Regions from separate parts of the Homo sapiens genome. Here region 2 is linked to region 1. Evidence: fine-mapped expression QTL. A gene starts in region 1. The other region holds a variant in brackets. All regions are shown on one strand. Distances are between the middles of the regions. Region 1 holds the start of TNK2 (tyrosine kinase non receptor 2). Region 2 overlaps TNK2 (tyrosine kinase non receptor 2).

Region 1 (8,777 bases):
ACGGACTTTACAACGAGGAAGCAAGTACACCACAGAAACAATGCCTTCACTACCTGGGGTGCACTCTGCACTCCCATTCATTCAGCAGGTAGTTTTGGCACCTGCTTTGCGCCAGGCCTCATTCTAGCTGCCTGTGTCTAGAAGCCCCGGTTGTTGGGAGGTTTCTATTCTAGGAGGAGGGCAAGGGGATCAGAAAGTTAAAAGTAAACCATGTATATAAAGGGCACGCTAAAAGATATTTATTAAAATCTTTTTTTTTAAATTACATTTTTAGGGTAGGGTTCTGGGGTGCTGGTTATGTTCCATTTCTTGATCTGGGTGCTGGGTGTATTACCTGTAAGAATGCAAGCTTTCAGCACTTCTCTGGAGGTATGCTGTACGTCAATAAAAAGTTCAAAAATTACATTGTGATATTTTCTTTCTTTCTTTCTTTCTTTCTTTTTTTTTTTTTGAGAGAGACAGAGTCTTGCTCTGTCGCCCAGTCTGGAATGCAGTGGCGTGATCTCAGCTCCCTGCAACCTCCGCCTCCCAGGTTCAAGCGATTGTCCTGTCTCAGCCTCCCAAGTAGCTGAGATTACAGGCGTGCACCATCATGCCCGGCTAATTTTGTATTTTTAGTAGAGACGGGGTTTCGTCATGTTGGTCAGGCTGGTCTCGAACTCCTGACCTCAGGTGATCCACCTGCCTCGGCCTCCCAAACTGCTGGGATTACAGGTGTGAGCCACCGCACCCGGCCAAACATTCTCATATTTTCTATTCTATTATTATCCTCTTTCATAAAACAAAAAAATAGTCATTCAAAATCCACCATATTCAGTTTACCTCCCTCTAAAAGGTTGCAACAGTAGTTTTAAAAACTGCTTTATTTAAAAACAAGCTGTACGCAGTGGCTCAGGCCTATAATCCTGGCACTTTGGGAGGCCGAGATGAGTGGATTGCTTGAGGCCAGGAGTTCAAAACCAGCCTGGGTAACAGGACGAAACCCCGTCTCTACTAAAAATACAAAAAATTAGCTGGGCGTGGTGGCGGGTGCCTGTAATCCCAACTATTAGGGAGGCTGAGGCCGGAGAATCGCTTGAACCCGGGAGGCAGAGGTTGCGGTGAGCCGAGATTGCACCACTGCACTCCAGCCTGGGCAACAAGCACGAAACTCCATCTCAAAAAAATAAAAAAATAAAAACAAACAAACTAGAAGCCCAATCCCTCAGCAGCACCCACCCACTCTTGGCTTAGCAGCTGCCTGCAGGTGTGAGCCAGGCGGCCCATTCCCCAGCAATGGCCTTCCTTGCCCTCTTGCTTACCTCACAGTGCAAAACAGCTCATGAAGGAGACTCTTAAGGGCACCACCCAAAGCCTCCCTCTGGCAGCCTGGCCCACCTCCACTCCCAGCTAGACCCGACAAGCCCTTCTCCTTGCCGAGTCATTCTGCTGTGGGCAGCTCTCCTAAAGTTCCAGATGTAGGAGGAGACTGGCTCAGGCACGTTAATTAGAGGGTTGGGGTTATCCCTGTGGCCACCTCCCAAATCTCCTGAGACTTATGTTTTTAGTCTGGGGCTCCTTCCTCATGTCAGCTCCCTAGTGGCAGAGCAGTCTCCCTCGGTGTCTCTCTGGCCACCATGATCAGTGTCACGGACACATCCCAGCATAGCCCCAGTTCTCAACCGCATGGCAGGGACCGTCCAGGAGTTGGTGAGGAACAGGGTGGGAGGGAGGAAGGGAGCAGGAGACCTCACTCTTTCCTTTGAACCTAAAGCTCCAGATAATCCTACACTAGAGGTGCATATGGGGCATGGCTCTGGCTTCTTGAGGGAAACTGGAGAGATGGGGGGCTGGGGAAATGGGGGGCTGTGCTGCCCTAGGAGCAGGACCAACCAGCGTGGAGGCGCTTTGACCTCTAGCTTTGTTTGATTTGGAGCTTGATTTACTGGAGGGGAAGTTTGCTCTAAATCAGTTGTTTGCATCTATTGACCAATAAAATCTAGTTAGTCCTGATGCTTCCTGAAGCAGGGCCCCTGGATTTGGCGTTGCTTTTTTGTGCCTCAGATTTTTTTTTTTTTTGAGGCAAGGTCTGGCTCTATTGCCCAGGCAGGAGTGCAGTGGTGTGGTCTCTACTCAGTGCAACCTCCACCTCCCAGGCTCAAGCGATCCTCCCCCCTCGGCCTCCCGAGTAGCTGGGATTACAGGTGCGTGCCACCATGCTCTGCTAATTTTTCTATTTTTTTTGTAGAGACAGGGTTTTGCCGTGTTGCCCAGGCTGGTCCTGAACTTGGGAGCTCAAATGATTTGCCCTCCTCAGCCTCCAAAGTGCTGTGATTACAGGCATGAGTCACCACACTCGGTCTGTGCCTTAGACTTTAGAGTCGGAAAGCTGGATTTGAATCCTGGCTTCACTACTACCAGCTGTATGGCACTGAACAAGTCACTTGGCCATGTAGAACCTCAGTTCTGCCACGTGTAAAATGGGGATATTATGTGTCTCCTTGGGTTGTCATGGGGTTGGATGAGAAGAATGCGAAGTGCAGGGCCTTGCACAGTTGGGCTCTGTGAGTCTTAGCAATGGCCATGACTGAGGCAGCGTGAGGGAGACTGGGAGAAAACCTCCTCAGTTTCCTTCTCCCAAATCTGTTGTCTTCCCCACTTTCTTTCCTGAAGCCAGGCGACAGGGGGGTGGTCCTGGCCCAGCCTCCTGGCTCCCTGGGGAAGGGCTGCCATTACTGGCAGTGTTAGATAATTTAGTAGAAAGTTGCCCTGCCCACCTCGCAGGCAAGGGACCGCCACCCAAATCCACCCAGACTGGGCCTCGTGTAGGTTTCCAGAAGCCACCCCTTTCTCATTGCCCTACTGCGCTCTGGCCAAGTCCCTGGGGCCCATTGCTGGACAGTGTGAGCGCAGAAAGAGCCAGCCCTACACAGTTTCCGATGTGTCTGATCTTGCCACCTACCGTGAACTGTTTTGTTATTACATCCATTTTCTAGATGAGGGACAGTAACAAGGGCTGAGTGGCCCTGAGCCCTTGGGCTCCACGCGCCCGCTGCCCAGGGCTGCCTCCGTTTGGGCTGGGACATGGGTCTGTGGGCTGGGAACAGGGCCTGCAGGCTGCCCCGCCGCTGGGAATCCGAGCGCTGGGTTTTCTCCTTCTGGGGTGGGGGCAGGGAGGAGACGGCTCAAGTGCAGGAATGAAGGTCCGCTTGCCTGGGGCTGTTTCTGCCCAAGTCCTCATCAGGAATCGTCAGGCCTGAGACAAACCCTCCCTCCTTCAGGAGTGCTCCGTTGGCCCCGGGGAAAGAGAGGTGATGGTCCGGGTTTCTGGGCCTTTGGGGTGCCACGGTGAGATTGGGACTAGAACCCCAGCCTCACTGGAGTGACCCCAGAAACCTTCCAGTCCAACCTCCTCACTTCAACTGAGGTTGGAACAACTGAGACCGGGTGGAAGTGACTTTTACACTCGCACAGTGCAACGGTAGCTACTCGGAATGAGAGACCTGTTCCGGCGCTCCTCCATTGCGCCCCTCGACTCGGCGGGACTTCTTCACCCAGGGCGCCACCGCTCCTCGGCACCGCAGGAAGGCGCAGGCCGGGCCCGGGGGAGTCGGGGAGAGCGGGGTAGGGCCCCGGAGGCTGGGGGAGGAGCCGGGGGAGGAGCGATGAGGCCGGGCCCTTTAAGAGGGCGGGCCGACTCCCCCCCACCCCCCACCCCGGGGCGGCGCAGGCGCAGGCGCAGGCGGGCTCGGGGCGCTCGGCAGGAGGGACGGCGGGCGGGCGCTCACCTGCGGGGGCCGGCGCGGGGCGGGCGCCCGGCGGGCCGACGTTGACGCCCGGAGGCGAGGGCGGGGAGGCGGGCGCGGGACTCGGGGGCGGCCCGGGGCGGGAGGGGAGGGCCGGGGCGGGCGGGCGGTGTGAGCGGGCGCCGAGGGCAGCACCATCTGGAGGGGTGGGAGCGCGCGGCCTCTGGGGGGCAAGCGAGTGCGCTGGGCCGAGCCGGTCGGGGGCCCCCGGCGGGTCGCGCAGGAGGAGCGCGGCGGGCTGAGCCCTGCGCTGCCGGAGCAGCAGCCGCAGCGCGTAGGGGTTCTCAGCTGGGGCCCGCAGCAGCTCCGCGGGCTGAAGCTCGGCGTGGAGGAGCGGGGCGGGGTGGGCCCGGCGGTGCAGGAGGAGGGCGGGGTGGGCCCGGGGCTGCAGGAGCGCGGCGGCCGCGGCCACGAGCCCAGCCGGGGGGTGGTGTGGGGGCCGCCGGACGGCGCGGGCTGGGGGCGCCCGCCGTGGTGGACGGGCTCGGCGGGCTGGCCTGTGGCGCAGGAGGAGGGGCTGGGGCCCCGCGGGCAGCACCAGGAGAAGGGCGGAGGCAGCCCCGCAGTGCAGGAGCGCGGCGAGGCCCGGGCCGGGGTGCAGGAGCGCGGGGAGGGGAGCCCGCGGAGGCTGCTGCAGCAGCCCGAACCGGCGTCCGAGTCCGGGGAAGGCCCCCGCGAGCGCAGGGAGGGGCCGGAAAGTTCCGGCGAACTGGGGGAGCGGCAGTGGGAGAGCGTCGGGCGGGAGGCGGTGGTCCTGGGAGCGGCCCCGGCGCCCCGAAGCCGCCCCGAGCTGGTGGGGAGGGCCCGGCCGGTGGGGCCCCGGGGGCCTGCGGGGGAGGGGCGCCTGGGGGTGCAAGAGGCGAATTGGCTGCCCGGGGTGCAGGAGGGACAGGTGGTGCGGGCTGTCCAGGAAACCTACCTGAACGGGAAGGAGCCCCAGGAGGGAGAGGGACCCGGCGAGGGGCTCAGGACCCGGAGGCGCCGGCGGAGGAGGAGGTGGTGACTGGCAGGCCCGGGCCCCACGGTACCTCCGGGGCTGAAGGGGACGCAGGATGTAGGGGCATGGGGAGTCGGGCGCAGAAGAGTGCGGGGAACCGCTGAGCTCTGGGAGCCACTGCCTGAGGGCAGGCCGCGGCCGGCGGGAACCTCTTCTGCCGTCTCAGCCTGGGCGTCGCTGAAGCTGTGTCTGCGGGGAGGCAGCGGAAGGCGGCAGGTAAGGAAGCCCAGTCCTGTTAGCTGGAGTTGGTGTGCTTGGAAGTGAGAGGCTGCAGGTCCCTGGCGAGAGCGTAGACTCCACACTGCCCTCGTTCTTTTGGCCTTTCATCCCTGGAGGGAGGAAGCAGTGCAGTTTTCAGCGGCAAGGCAGGACCTCTCCCCCGCCAGTACTGTGTATGGTAATTGGAGTGATAGGGCATCTTCTTAGAGTCTAGGCAGCAGGCGGGACGTCTGGGTGGCTGCCAGGTCTGTGCAGAGGGAAGAGAGGGGTAGCCCCAGGGAGGAGCTGCAGGACGGTCCCCCCTCCACCTGCCCCCCGATGGCAGTAGGGGTGCCTCCATGCTATATGCTCTGCATGGTGCAGTCAACACACAAGTCCTCAAAACACGTCCCACAGAAGGGAAGAGGGCAGCGTGGGATTAACAGAACCTTATCTTGTAACCCTGTTGGTCACGTGAGCTGAGATGAGTGTGACAGCTAGTGGCTTGGGTACGGCACGAGCCTGGCCCGCTTCTGCCACGCCGTCCTGTCACAGCTGATTTACCCTGAGGGCCCAGAGCCAAGGATGATTAGTGGGCGGAAGGAGGGAGAGCAACTGGTGAGCCCTCTCGTCTCTGGGTGGGACGACCCAGCGTTAGAGGGGCGGGAGAGGAGGGTGCACTTGCACCCCAGGGCTCTGGGCTGCCTCTGTGGCCCCACCCTGGGGAGGTTTGCAGATGGGCCGCTGTGGTATCATGGGCTCTGCACCTGTCAGGACAGGAGCTCCCAGCCCAGTCTAGAGGTAGGGCTTGTAGGGGCCAAGGGTGGGGGCTGTATTTGGCTTGTTGACTCCCTCGTGGCCTGAGTGCCAGACCTACTCATTCCGCCTCGTGCCCCCAGGGGGCTTGGCGGGCTGCTTGTGGGCCTTACTCTCCTAGAGCTGTTCGCCTCTTACCTGGCACTGTCAGGTGCTTGCTTCCCCTGCCCCTGGGTGGGGATGGGTGCAGGGTTGCTGCTTGCCCAGGGCCTTAGCTAGAGGACCCTCCTCTGCCCCAGCCCGAGGTGTGGCTGTGAGTCAGATGGACCCAGACCCCTGTCCCGAACCAGACTGGGTGCTCTCCTCTGGGGGCAGAGGGAGTGGTGCTGGAGGTAGCAGCTGCTGGAGGAGCCGGTTAGCCCGCTCCTCAGACAAACTCAAACCCGCCTGTCAGCTTCATCCCATGCCTGTCGCGCTGCCACCCAAACACTCATGCACCGGAAGTTCAGCTGCTGTGCCCACGGTGCCTGACGCTTCTGGAATGGCCAGAGTGGCTCTCACTGTCTGGCTTCAGTGGAGAGAACGGTCTGTTTTAAACACATACACACAATCTTCACCTACTTATTTCAGGTCGGCGTTTTTGAACTTGTGGTAGATGAATGGGAGAAAGGCCTTGGCATCACACAGATTGCTTTTGATCTGGTTATATCGCTTACAAGCTGTGTAACTTCCTTGGGCAACATAATGTCTTTAGGTTTCAGTTTCTTGGTGTCTGCGGTGGGCCAGGACTTCCCCTGCAGTGTCGTGAGTAAAGAAACCTCAGGCCCTTTGGAGCCTGGTGCCCACCTCCCCGGAGCCCCGGCAGATGTTAGGGAGGAAGGGTCAGACTGTTCCCTCTGGCCCCTGAGCCCGGGATTAGCCCCCACCTTGTGCTTCGTCTAGAAGATGCAGTGTTTCTTTTTGTTTGTTTTAAATAACAGTTTTATTGAGATATAATGACATATGGTAAACTGAGCATATTTAAAACACACAATTTAATAAGTTGTGGCCTGTGTATATACCCGTGAAACCACCCCCACCTTCAAGATAGTGAACATCCCCCTTATTCCCCTGTCCCCAGAAGTTTTCTTGTGGAACCCCTCCATCCCCCGCTCCTCTGCCATCCCCTACCCCAGGTAACAGGCTGGTCTACTTTCTGTCACTGTGTCTGAGTTTGCAGCATTTACTGTAAACGGAATCGCGTCTTTCATTCAACAGAAGTATTTTGGAGTTTGTCCAGGTGGTTGCGCGTATCAACAGTCATTGTACACGTGTGCCAAAGTCTGTTTATCCATTGACCTGTTGATGGGTTTTCAGAGAAAGCTGCTGTGAACGTGTTTGTTAGTCTTTGTGTGGATGTACACTTTTATTTATCTTAGGTAAATCCCTAGGACCGGAATGGCTGGGTCATGTGGTAGGTACACATTTAACCTTTAAGAAACTGCCAGACTGTTTTCCAAAGTGGTTGTACATTTTATATACTCATCCACTGTGTATGAGAGTTCTGGTTTGTCCATGTCTTTGATATGTCCACATCTCGATGTGGTCAGTCTCTAATTTTAGACACTCTCATGTCTGTAGTGGTATCTCATTACAATTTTAATTTGTATTTCCTTAATGACTCATGTTGTCGGGCATCTTCTCATGTGCTCATTTGCCATACGTATGTCTTTGGTGCTGTGTCTGTTCAGATCGTTTGCCCATTTTTAATTGTGTAGGGTTTTTCGTGTTGAGTTCTGAAGAGTTCTTGATATATTCTGGATATAAGCCTTTTATCAGGTATGTGATTTACAAATCTTTTTTCCAGCTTGTGGCTTTGTATTTTGATCCTCTTAACAATGTCTTCTAAAAAATTCTCATGATCAGTAGTGCAAAATGCTGTGTTTTTGAAGAGAAGTTGTAAATTTTGATTAATTTACTAATTTGTTACTTTGTGGATTGCATTTTTGGTGTCATGTCCAAGAAATCTTTGCCTGACCCAAAGTCCCAACAGTTTTCCCCTGTATTTTCTTGTAGACATTTTATAGTTTTGGGCTTTACATTGAGATCTAGGATTCGTTTGGGGTTAATTTTTGTTACGTGGTGCAAGGTATGAATCAATGTCCAGTTTTTTGCATGTAGAGATCTAATTGATCTAGTAGCACCATTTATTAAAAAGATGTATCTCTCCACTGAATTGCCTTTGAATCTTTGTCAAAAATCAATTGCTGGCTGGGCACGGTGGCTCACTCCTCTAATCCCAGTGCTTTGGGAGGCTGAGGCGGGCGGATCATGAGGTCAGGAGTTCAAGGCCAAGCTGGTGAACGTAGTGGAACCCTGTCTCTACTAAAAATACAAAAAATTAGCCAGGCGTGGTGGCGGGCACCTGTAATCCCAGCTACTCAGGAGGCTGAGTCAGGAGAATCGCATGAACCCGGGAGGCGGAGGTTGCAGTGAGCCAAGATTGCGCCACTGCATTCCAGCCCGGGCGACAGTGTGAGACTCCATCTCAAAAAGAAAAAGAAAAAAATCAATTGTTTGTGTGTGTCTAATTCTGGATTCTGTTTTGTTCCATTGATCTATTTGTCTGTCTTTATCCCAGTATCACACTATCTTGATTACTGTGGGTTTATAAACTATAGTAAGTCTTGAAATCAGGGTAAGATCTCAAACTTGGTTTTGTCTTTTCAAAATTGCTTTAGCTATTCTGGGTTCTTTGCACTTCCATATACATTTTAGAATTAGTTAGTCAATTTCTACAAAAAAGCCTGCTGGGATTTTGATTGGGATTATGATCAATTTGGGGAGAATTGATCGGTTAGCAGTATTGAGCCTTCTGACCATGAACAGTGTATATCTCTGTATTTGTCTAGGTTTTGTTTACTATCTCTCAGCAGTGTTTTGTAGTTTTTGGTATATCAGTCTTTTCCATCTTTTATTGAACATATCCTTAAATAGTACCTATTTTTATGCTATTGTAAATGATACTGGTTTTTCCTGGTAGTATTGGTTTTTTATTTTTA
Region 2 (8,000 bases), 37 kb after region 1:
TGGGCCTGGGTGTGCATCTGTGGGTCTGTGTTTGGAGTTCCCTCCTAGCCTGGCCTTCTCTTCGCCGTGGCTTCCCACTTGCGAAGCTGTGTCCAGTATTTGTTTCCTGGTGCGGAGTCTGGGAGGCCACCTGCCGCAGCTCTGACTGAGTCTAGGCTCAGTCCTTCTCAGGGTACCAGGCTGTGGGCAGAGGGGAGACACCTAGATGTTTCGTGCTGTGTCTAGATTTGGAGACACAAATGATGACTGGTCTTTCCCAGGGGCTCGTTTGGAGGAAGGGGTGGCTGGCAGCACTTTTGTTCCGCATACAGAGCGGGTGTTGGAATCCATTGCGGGTCCTTGGCCTGGTCTGGCCCTGGAGCCTCGGCTTCCTGTGGTGGGTGGGAGCCAGGCATCCGGGTTATCCCTCCAGGCCTGGGCGCCTGGGACCCCTAGGGAGAAGAGCGGGCGGGCGTTTTGAACAGAATGTCCGGCATTAGTTGAGCCATTTCTGGACTACCTTCGGCCCGGACGGGAACGTGGTGCTGAGATTTCCAGAGCTGGGGCAGCCTTAGGCAGTTCTCAGCACCGGCCTCTGTTTTCCATCTTGTCTACCCCAGAGATGTTGACCAGAGGCCCGGGGGCAGCAGGAGGTAGAAGGTTCATGCGGAGGTGTTGGGCCCTTTTCCTGCTCCCCCAGGAAGTCCTCATCCGCCCCTGCTTCAGTCACGGCCGGGTAGCAGCCCTGGCCCTCCCATGGCCACGGGGACTCCGGCCTGTTCATGGCGGGAGAGAGAGGGCGCGGACAGGGCGGGCCTGGAAGGAAGGGCTGGCCTCAGTCCCCTCTGGACTGCTGGTGCCTCGGCCACACTGAGCCTCACACGGGTGCGTGTGGGCTGCGAGAAGTGACACGGTCCTCTTGGAAGTCCCACTGGAGCCTTGGGATGAAGCTGCCTTGGAGTGTGCGTGGGCGCCATCCCGAGGGGGAGCTTCCTGTGCCTCCGAGCGTGCGTGGGCGCCATCCCGAGGGGGAGCTTCTTGTGCCTCGGAGCGTGCGTGGGCGCCATCCCGAGGGGGAGTTTCTTGTGCCTCGGAGCGTGCGTGGGCGCCATCCCGAGGGGGAGTTTCTTGTGCCTCGGAGCGTGCGTGGGCGCCATCCCGAGGGGAGCTTCGTGTGCCTCGGAGCGTGCGTGGGCGCCATCCCGAGGGGAGCTTCCTGTGCCTCGGAGCGTGCGTGGGCGCCATCCCGAGGGGGAGTTTCTTGTGCCTCGGAGCGTGCGTGGGCGCCATCCCGAGGGGAGCTTCTTGTGCCTCGGAGTGTGCGTGGGCGCCATCCCGAGGGGAGCTTCTTGTGCCTCGGAGTGTGCGTGGGCGCCATCCCGAGGGGGAGCTTCCTGTGCCTCCGAGCGTGCGTGGGCGCCATCCCGAGGGGGAGTTTCTTGTGCCTCGGAGCGTGCGTGGGCGCCATCCCGAGGGGAGCTTCTTGTGCCTCGGAGTGTGCGTGGGCGCCATCCCGAGGGGAGCTTCTTGTGCCTCGGAGCGTGCGTGGGCGCCATCCCGAGGGGGAGTTTCTTGTGCCTCGGAGCGTGCGTGGGCGCCATCCCGAGGGGAGCTTCTTGTGCCTCGGAGTGTGCGTGGGCGCCATCCCGAGGGGAGCTTCCTGTGCCTCGGAGCGTGCGTGGGCGCCATCCCGAGGGGAGCTTCCTGTGCCTCGGAGCGTGCGTGGGCGCCATCCCGAGGGAGAGTTTCTTGTGCCTCGGAGCGTGCGTGGGCGCCATCCCGAGGGGAGCTTCTTGTGCCTCGGAGTGTGCGTGGGCGCCATCCCGAGGGGAGCTTCTTGTGCCTCGGAGTGTGCGTGGGCGCCATCCCGAGGGGGAGCTTCTTGTGCCTCGGAGCGTGCGTGGGCGCCATCCCGAGGGGGAGTTTCTTGTGCCTCGGAGTGTGCGTGGGCGCCATCCCGAGGGGAGCTTCTTGCACACGTCCTCCGCACTCTTACTCTCCTTCCCCCAGGAGCAAGCATGTTTTCTCGAGTGGTGTCAGGACTCCCAGCAGCCATGGGGGCTCTTGCCTCGGCCATACCTGCACTAAGGGAGGTGGGCTTGATGTCTCCTTTCCCTCTCAGAAGTGGGTCCCAAAGGAGGCTTCTGTGCCTGGAGCTGGGCAGTGTTGGCGGAAGGGAGAGGCCAGACGGAGTGACCTGCCTTGGGCACGAGTCACGCTGCTCTGAGCAAGGTCTCGGCCTCAGCGGCATTCTCACCCAGTTACTGAGCGCCTCTGAAGAGGTGTGGAGAGCAGAGTCCGGCGTCTGGCCCGCGGCAGCCACCGGGGAGCCCGTGGGTGTAGCGGGAGAGCCGCAGCCCAGCCGGTGCCGGGGTTCCTCCTCTACGGGCCGCCGTGGGAGGCTGTGTGCGTGCTGGGGAGCCGGGGCTCTGCTCCTTCGAGTGGCCCTGCTATTTTTCAGATGGGACTCGTCTCGTCTCGGGGTACTGTCCTCTCTCCTTCCTTCCCTCCCTGCAGGCAGGGTGGGAATCACAGGGTGGCTGTGTGTGGTGGGGCCAGGCCAGTGGCCCTGTGTATGAGGAGGCTGGGCAGGGGGAGCACAGCCCCGTCTCCCCGCGCCCCGCGCCCCCCGCCTCCCCGCCGACCGTGGTGCTCTCGGGTTTGACTTTGGTCTCTGGGATGGGCTGTTCCGGAGTCACCCCGCTCCAGCCAGGCCTCGTCACCTTACAAGGCTGTGGGTCTGGGTGCCCAGGCGTCGCCACCTCCTCCGTCCTCTCTCCCCGGCCTGGCTGGGTTTCAGAGGAGCCCTTCTTCACGCTTTGGCCCTGGGACAGGAGAAGTGGGGGTTGGTGGGGAGGGCGTGCAGTGTGGTGCCACACGTGTCCACCCTAGCAGCTCTGGGCTGTCACCGCCCCCGCGTGCCCAGACTCTGCCCACGGGGCTGTCACCGCCCCCGCCTGCCCAGACACTGCCCACGGGGCTCTCACCGCCCCCGCCTGCCCAGACACTGCCCACGGGGCTCTCACCGCCCCCGCCTGCCCAGACTCTGCTCACGGCATCACGTATGACAAGTCCAGCAGCAGACGCGGGAGCCTCACAACCTGTGAGAGCCTTCGGGAGTCAGGAGTGTCTTGCGGGAGCCCTGTGCTTCCTGGCCTGCCTGCCCCTGCCCCTGCCCCTGCCCCTGCCCAGGCCCCGGCTTAGGCCACATCAGCAGAGGTTTCGTGTCTGAGGTCAGAGGGGGACTGGCAGCCCTACTGTCTGGTCACTGTGGGAGAGCTGAGTTCCCTTTTGGACACAGGTAGAGCCCCTCCTGAGGAGACGGGGAGGCTCCCGCAGGCCTTCCGGGAGGTGGTGGAAAGCTCCGGAAGCAGGTGAAGCGGTGGAGGGAGGGACTGAGTTGCCCGAGTGCTCCTAGACTCTCCCGCGTCTGCATTCGGGAGGCAGGTTGTAGCTGGAGGCCTGGCCCCCAGCCTAGTGCAAGGCCCTAGGTGTCCCCCGGCACCCCCGCACCTCTCAGAACTCCTGGAACCCAGCCGAGGAGTGAAATCAAGTGGCCAGAAGAGGACTGGGGCCCCGGCCTTGCCAGGGAACTGAGGGGTGAGGAGGAGGTGTGGGCGGGGCGCTGGCCCCACAGACCTGAAAGCTGGCGTTGGGTCCCAGGTCTGCTGGGATCTTTCTGGTAACCGTGGACAGGTCATGTTGCCTGCTGCAGCAGCTTCCAGCGTGCCTCCTTATTTGCAAACCATAGGGAAAGCTGCCTGACCCACCTAGAGAGTTGTGGGTAAGGCCGTGTGCAAACAGGCCTGTACGGGGCATGGTGGGTCACGGGGGCTGTTGGGGAGGAGGGCCGGTGGCACACAGCCTGGTCCTGAGGCCTGAGCTCCATCCCCCTTCTGCCACAGTGGCCAGGGTGTGAGGAGGGTCCCAGTGCCGGGGCTGCCCCGCCACGCCTGGCGTTCACCGTGCCATCTCTGTCGCGCAGGGCCGAGAACTACTGGTGGCGTGGCCAGAACACACGGACGCTGTGTGTGGGGCCCTTCCCTCGCAACGTGGTGACCTCCGTGGCCGGCCTGTCGGCCCAGGACATCAGCCAGCCCCTGCAGAACAGCTTCATCCACACAGGGCATGGCGACAGTGACCCCCGCCACTGCTGGGGCTTCCCGGACAGGATTGACGAGTGAGTACTGGGCGGGGATGGATGCTGACCTGGCCCCGCTCGGGACTCCAGGGCCCTCAGC[A/G]CGGCACGCGTGGGCGGAATCTGCTCTTCACCCTTTCGCCCGGGCTTCAGCCCCCGACCCGCCACTCTCCCCTCCTCACCCTGGCCTTACTCTCGGGAAGCTGTGGAACCCTAGGAAGCCCAGCCTGGTGGGGGTTCTCCAGGGGAATGTTCTCCAGGGGAGTGTTCTCCAGGGGAGGGTTCTCCAGGGGAGGGTTCTCCAGGGGAATGTTCTCCAGGGGAGGGTTCTCCAGGGGAGGGTTCTCCAGGGGAGGGTTCTCCAGGGGAATGTTCTCCAGGGGAGGGTTCTCCAGGGGAGGGTTCTCCGGGGAGCGTTCTCCAGGGGAATGCTGTCCCTGCCATTTTCAAGCTTTGGGGGGCCGATCTCCTAACTCTGAGACACTTCATCTGTGAAACAGGTTCACCCCCCCAATAAGGGGAAGGCTGTAAATGCACTCTGAATTAGCACTTGCTGCTCAGATGCAGGGGTCCTGAGAGAAGCTTTCCCACTCACTGTAGATGAAAGTAGGGTCAGGAGCTTCTGAGGATGGACTCCTGTTTGGTGGAAAGGTCCCCGGAGCCACAGCTGTAACCCCTCTTGGTACTCGGGCCTTAGGAAAATGAACTTGGGAGGAACCCGGTGGGAGCTGCTGAGGAGGAGAGCTTCTCCCATGACCCCCCTGTGGCCCCCTGTGACCCTGTGACCCTGTGACCCCTGCACACGAGCAGTGGTTTTCCTTCTCCTGCTGGTGGTGCCAGAGTCCTGGAGACGTGAACCTGCTGGCTCAGGCCCTGGGGATGTATGCAGGTCCACATGGGAGTGAGCCTGCTTTCCAGAACCAGAGTGGGACTGGGGACCTTGGGGACTGCAGAGGGAACGTTAGGTGGCAGCTCCGCCTCCCCACCACACAGTACTCTACGGAGCTCACTCCATACCTGGGAGAGGCCCTGTCTCCTATGTAAGAGGATAAGGCCACCGAGGGGCATCTGGGAAGGACACGCAGAATCAGTCACTTCCGGGATGCCACCCCCCACCCCCCGAAGCTTCTTGCGCCAGGCCTCCAAGCCTCTCTGCTGGCCGCAGGGGGATTCCAGGCCCCTGGCCTCTGCAGCCCTTCTCCTGCTGACTTCTGATACTCTGGTCTGCCCTGAGAGGCGTGGAAAGCAGGGGCCTTCACCCACCGGGCCCCACACACCAGAACCCCACACAGCGGGCCCCCACACACCAGAACCCACACAGCGGGCCCCCACACACCAGAACCCCACACAGCGAGTCCCCCCACACCAGAACCCACACAGCGGGCCCCCACACACCAGAACCCACACAGCGGGCCCACACACACTGGAACCCCAAGCTCACAGGGCTCAGCCCATGTGTTTTGCCTAAAAAGAACCCAGCAAGGGCCTGAGAGTTGGGGTGAAAGACTGCAGACACCTCCAGGAGAGGCTGGTGCCCTCTGCCCCACTCCTGGCATGCTGTGGCCAGCCCAGCCCCATTCCTCCAGGCTTTAATCAGCCCCAGTGACTAAGTCTCAGATACTGACAGTTGGTGCAGGGACGGAGGGTGGATCCGGAGCAGGACAGGTGGCCCAGCCTCTCCCGCACCTCCTGGCCATGTGGCAGAAGGGTGCCTCCTGCCCACCCTGGCTGGGCACCATAGCTGGGATGCCCCGTTCTTAGGCCCTCCATCGTGGCCTGCGGGACAGGAGTGTCTGCCCTCTGGCCGCTGCCTGGTGTGGGCTGGGGGCCTGGGGGGTTGTGGAGGACCACCTCTGCCCTTGTAGGGTGTAGTTGGAGTCCCTGAGGTCCTAGGCTTTCCATCCTGGGGTCAGGTGTCCTTTCTCTGCCTTCTCTCCAGGACACCCCCCAGCTGAGACGTGCGGTCAGGTTCTGTGGACTGGGAGGCGGGAGGCCTGTGCTTCAGACCCAAGACTACACCCGGTTTCCTCCAGGACGAAGGGGCTCTGATGAGATTCTGCCACCCCTCCACACGCTTCCCCTGCTCTCTTGACCCAGCTCTCTCCCCCACAGACTGTATCTGGGAAACCCCATGGACCCCCCCGACCTCCTGAGCGTGGAACTGAGCACCTCCCGGCCCCCCCAGCATCTAGGAGGGGTGAAAAGTAAGAGCCCCTCTGCTCCCTGGTGTCCCTAACTCATCGGCTACTCAGGAAGGGGCACTGTCTTCACAGGCCACCCTAAGGCTGCTGTTCTGTTTTTGGGGACAGTGGGGTCAGGGCAGCAGGCGGGACAGCTGTGTCCCTGGCTCCGGCTGGGCGTGGGGTGGAAGACAGGCAGCTGTATCCGCCGAGGTGGGCCTCCTCGGGCTGGGTCTGCAGCAGGCCCGTCCGCCCCGGCGTCCCTCCTCCCTCCTTCCACGGCCGAGCTCAGATCCTGGCTTTCCTCACTTCCCCCTAATCCTGCTCTCCTGTCCCAAGCCAAAACCACCCCACGGCTCCGGCTCTGCCTGGGGCCTCCTCCATCTCCCGGTCCTCTGCCTATCATACTGGACCGCCGTGTTCCTCATCCTGCCGCCTGCGGCCTCCCGTTTGCTGGGGGCTTGTACATTCACTCGCCCCCATTCACTTCTCTCCCTTCGTCTCTCTACACTCTGCCCTCTCGTCCGGCCGTCTCCCTCCTTTGTCCTCTGTCCTGCTCCGTCTCTCTCCCCCTGTCCGCATGGCCTTTCTTGCAGGGGAGCCTCCACCTCGCCCACCTCAGCCTGCCTTCTTCACTCAGAGTAAGTGGGGCTGCTTCCGATGCCTTGGCCCCCGCCCCCGCCCCCTCTCTCTCACTCCTCTCCTGGAAGGTACAGAGCCTGGGCGGCTGGGCCGGAGGGGAGGTGGGTGGGTGTGTGCTGTGAGCTTCCGCGGCTGCCCTGGCCTAGCATGCCTGCCCCCCCTCGAGCCCGCCCCCCGGAGCCTGGGCTTCTGCTCACGAGTGTGGCCCTGGCTTCCGCCTCGGCCTCACTCCCTCCCAGACCTGTCTGAGCTTCTGGAGCACGAGTGTGGCCCTGGCTTCTGCCTTGGCCTCGCTGCCTCCCAGACCTGCAGGCGCTGTCTGGGCTTTGTGGCCGTTGGTCAGGAGTACTGTCCTCTCCAAGGATAGTCCTTATAGCCCCTGATGGCAGGAGGCGGCTCCGTGCCTGCACTAATGGTGTGCCGTGACAGGGGCGGGGATGAGGGCTCACTAACTCGCCAGGGCGCAGGAGCAGGGCCGCCGGGGTCTTGTGCTGGTGGAGGCAGCGTCAGGCAGGAGCCAGTGTTGCTTGCTGCAGCTTAGACGGAGCGAGGCGGGGCTCACCGGCCCACATGGGGCTGCCGGGCAGAGCAGGTTCCGCCCTCCTGATGGAGTGGTCGGAGGTGCGCTGAGAACCTGGCCGCCGGTGGCTGACCTCAGACCTCGGGGGGAGTTGGGAGTGGAGGGTTGCTGGGGGACACTTGGCTTTCTCTCCCACGTGCCACCTCCCCTCGTGTCCCAGACCCTGCCTGACTGCCTTCCTGTTGGGCTCTCCCTTTCCATCACAGAACCAACCTATGACCCTGTGAGCGAGGACCAAGACCCCTTGTCCAGCGACTTCAAGAGGCTGGGCCTGCGGAAGCCAGGCCTGCCCCGAGGGCTGTGGCTGGCGAAGCCCTCGGCGCGGGTGCCGGGCACCAAGGCCAGCCGAGGCAGCGGGGCTGAGGTCACGCTCATCGACTTCGGTGAGGAGCCCGTGGTCCCGGCCCTACGGCCCTGCGCGCCCTCCCTGGCGCAGCTGGCCATGGACGCCTGCTCCCTGCTGGACGAGACCCCGCCTCAG

The links.
Region 2: its variant is fine-mapped to the expression of TNK2 in testis (GTEx, PIP 0.99). The same link has a PIP of 0.9 or more in fibroblasts.

Annotation. Positions count from the first base shown.
Region 1 is chr3:195,904,706-195,913,482 of GRCh38, reverse strand. TNK2 (tyrosine kinase non receptor 2) reads left to right here and starts at 4,932. Exons shown (of 16, transcript NM_001382273.1): 1 at 4,932-4,998. TNK2-AS1 (TNK2 antisense RNA 1) reads right to left here and starts at 5,407. Exons shown (of 2, transcript NR_145450.1): 1 at 4,705-5,407; 2 at 219-3,618. It overlaps LOC124906253 (keratinocyte proline-rich protein-like), which reads left to right. Exons shown (of 4, transcript NR_197446.1): 4 at 1-403. RefSeq lists enhancers at 3,349-3,398, 6,389-6,618, 6,669-6,718 and silencers at 3,529-4,178, 4,229-4,418, 4,469-4,718.
Region 2 is chr3:195,868,435-195,876,434 of GRCh38, reverse strand. TNK2 (tyrosine kinase non receptor 2) reads left to right here. Exons shown (of 16, transcript NM_001382273.1): 10 at 3,965-4,159; 11 at 6,230-6,321; 12 at 6,894-6,938; 13 at 7,726-8,000. Among named protein-coding and RNA genes, the nearest start is that of MIR6829, 10 kb to the left of the region's middle. The variant A/G (reference allele first, on the strand shown) is at 4,221.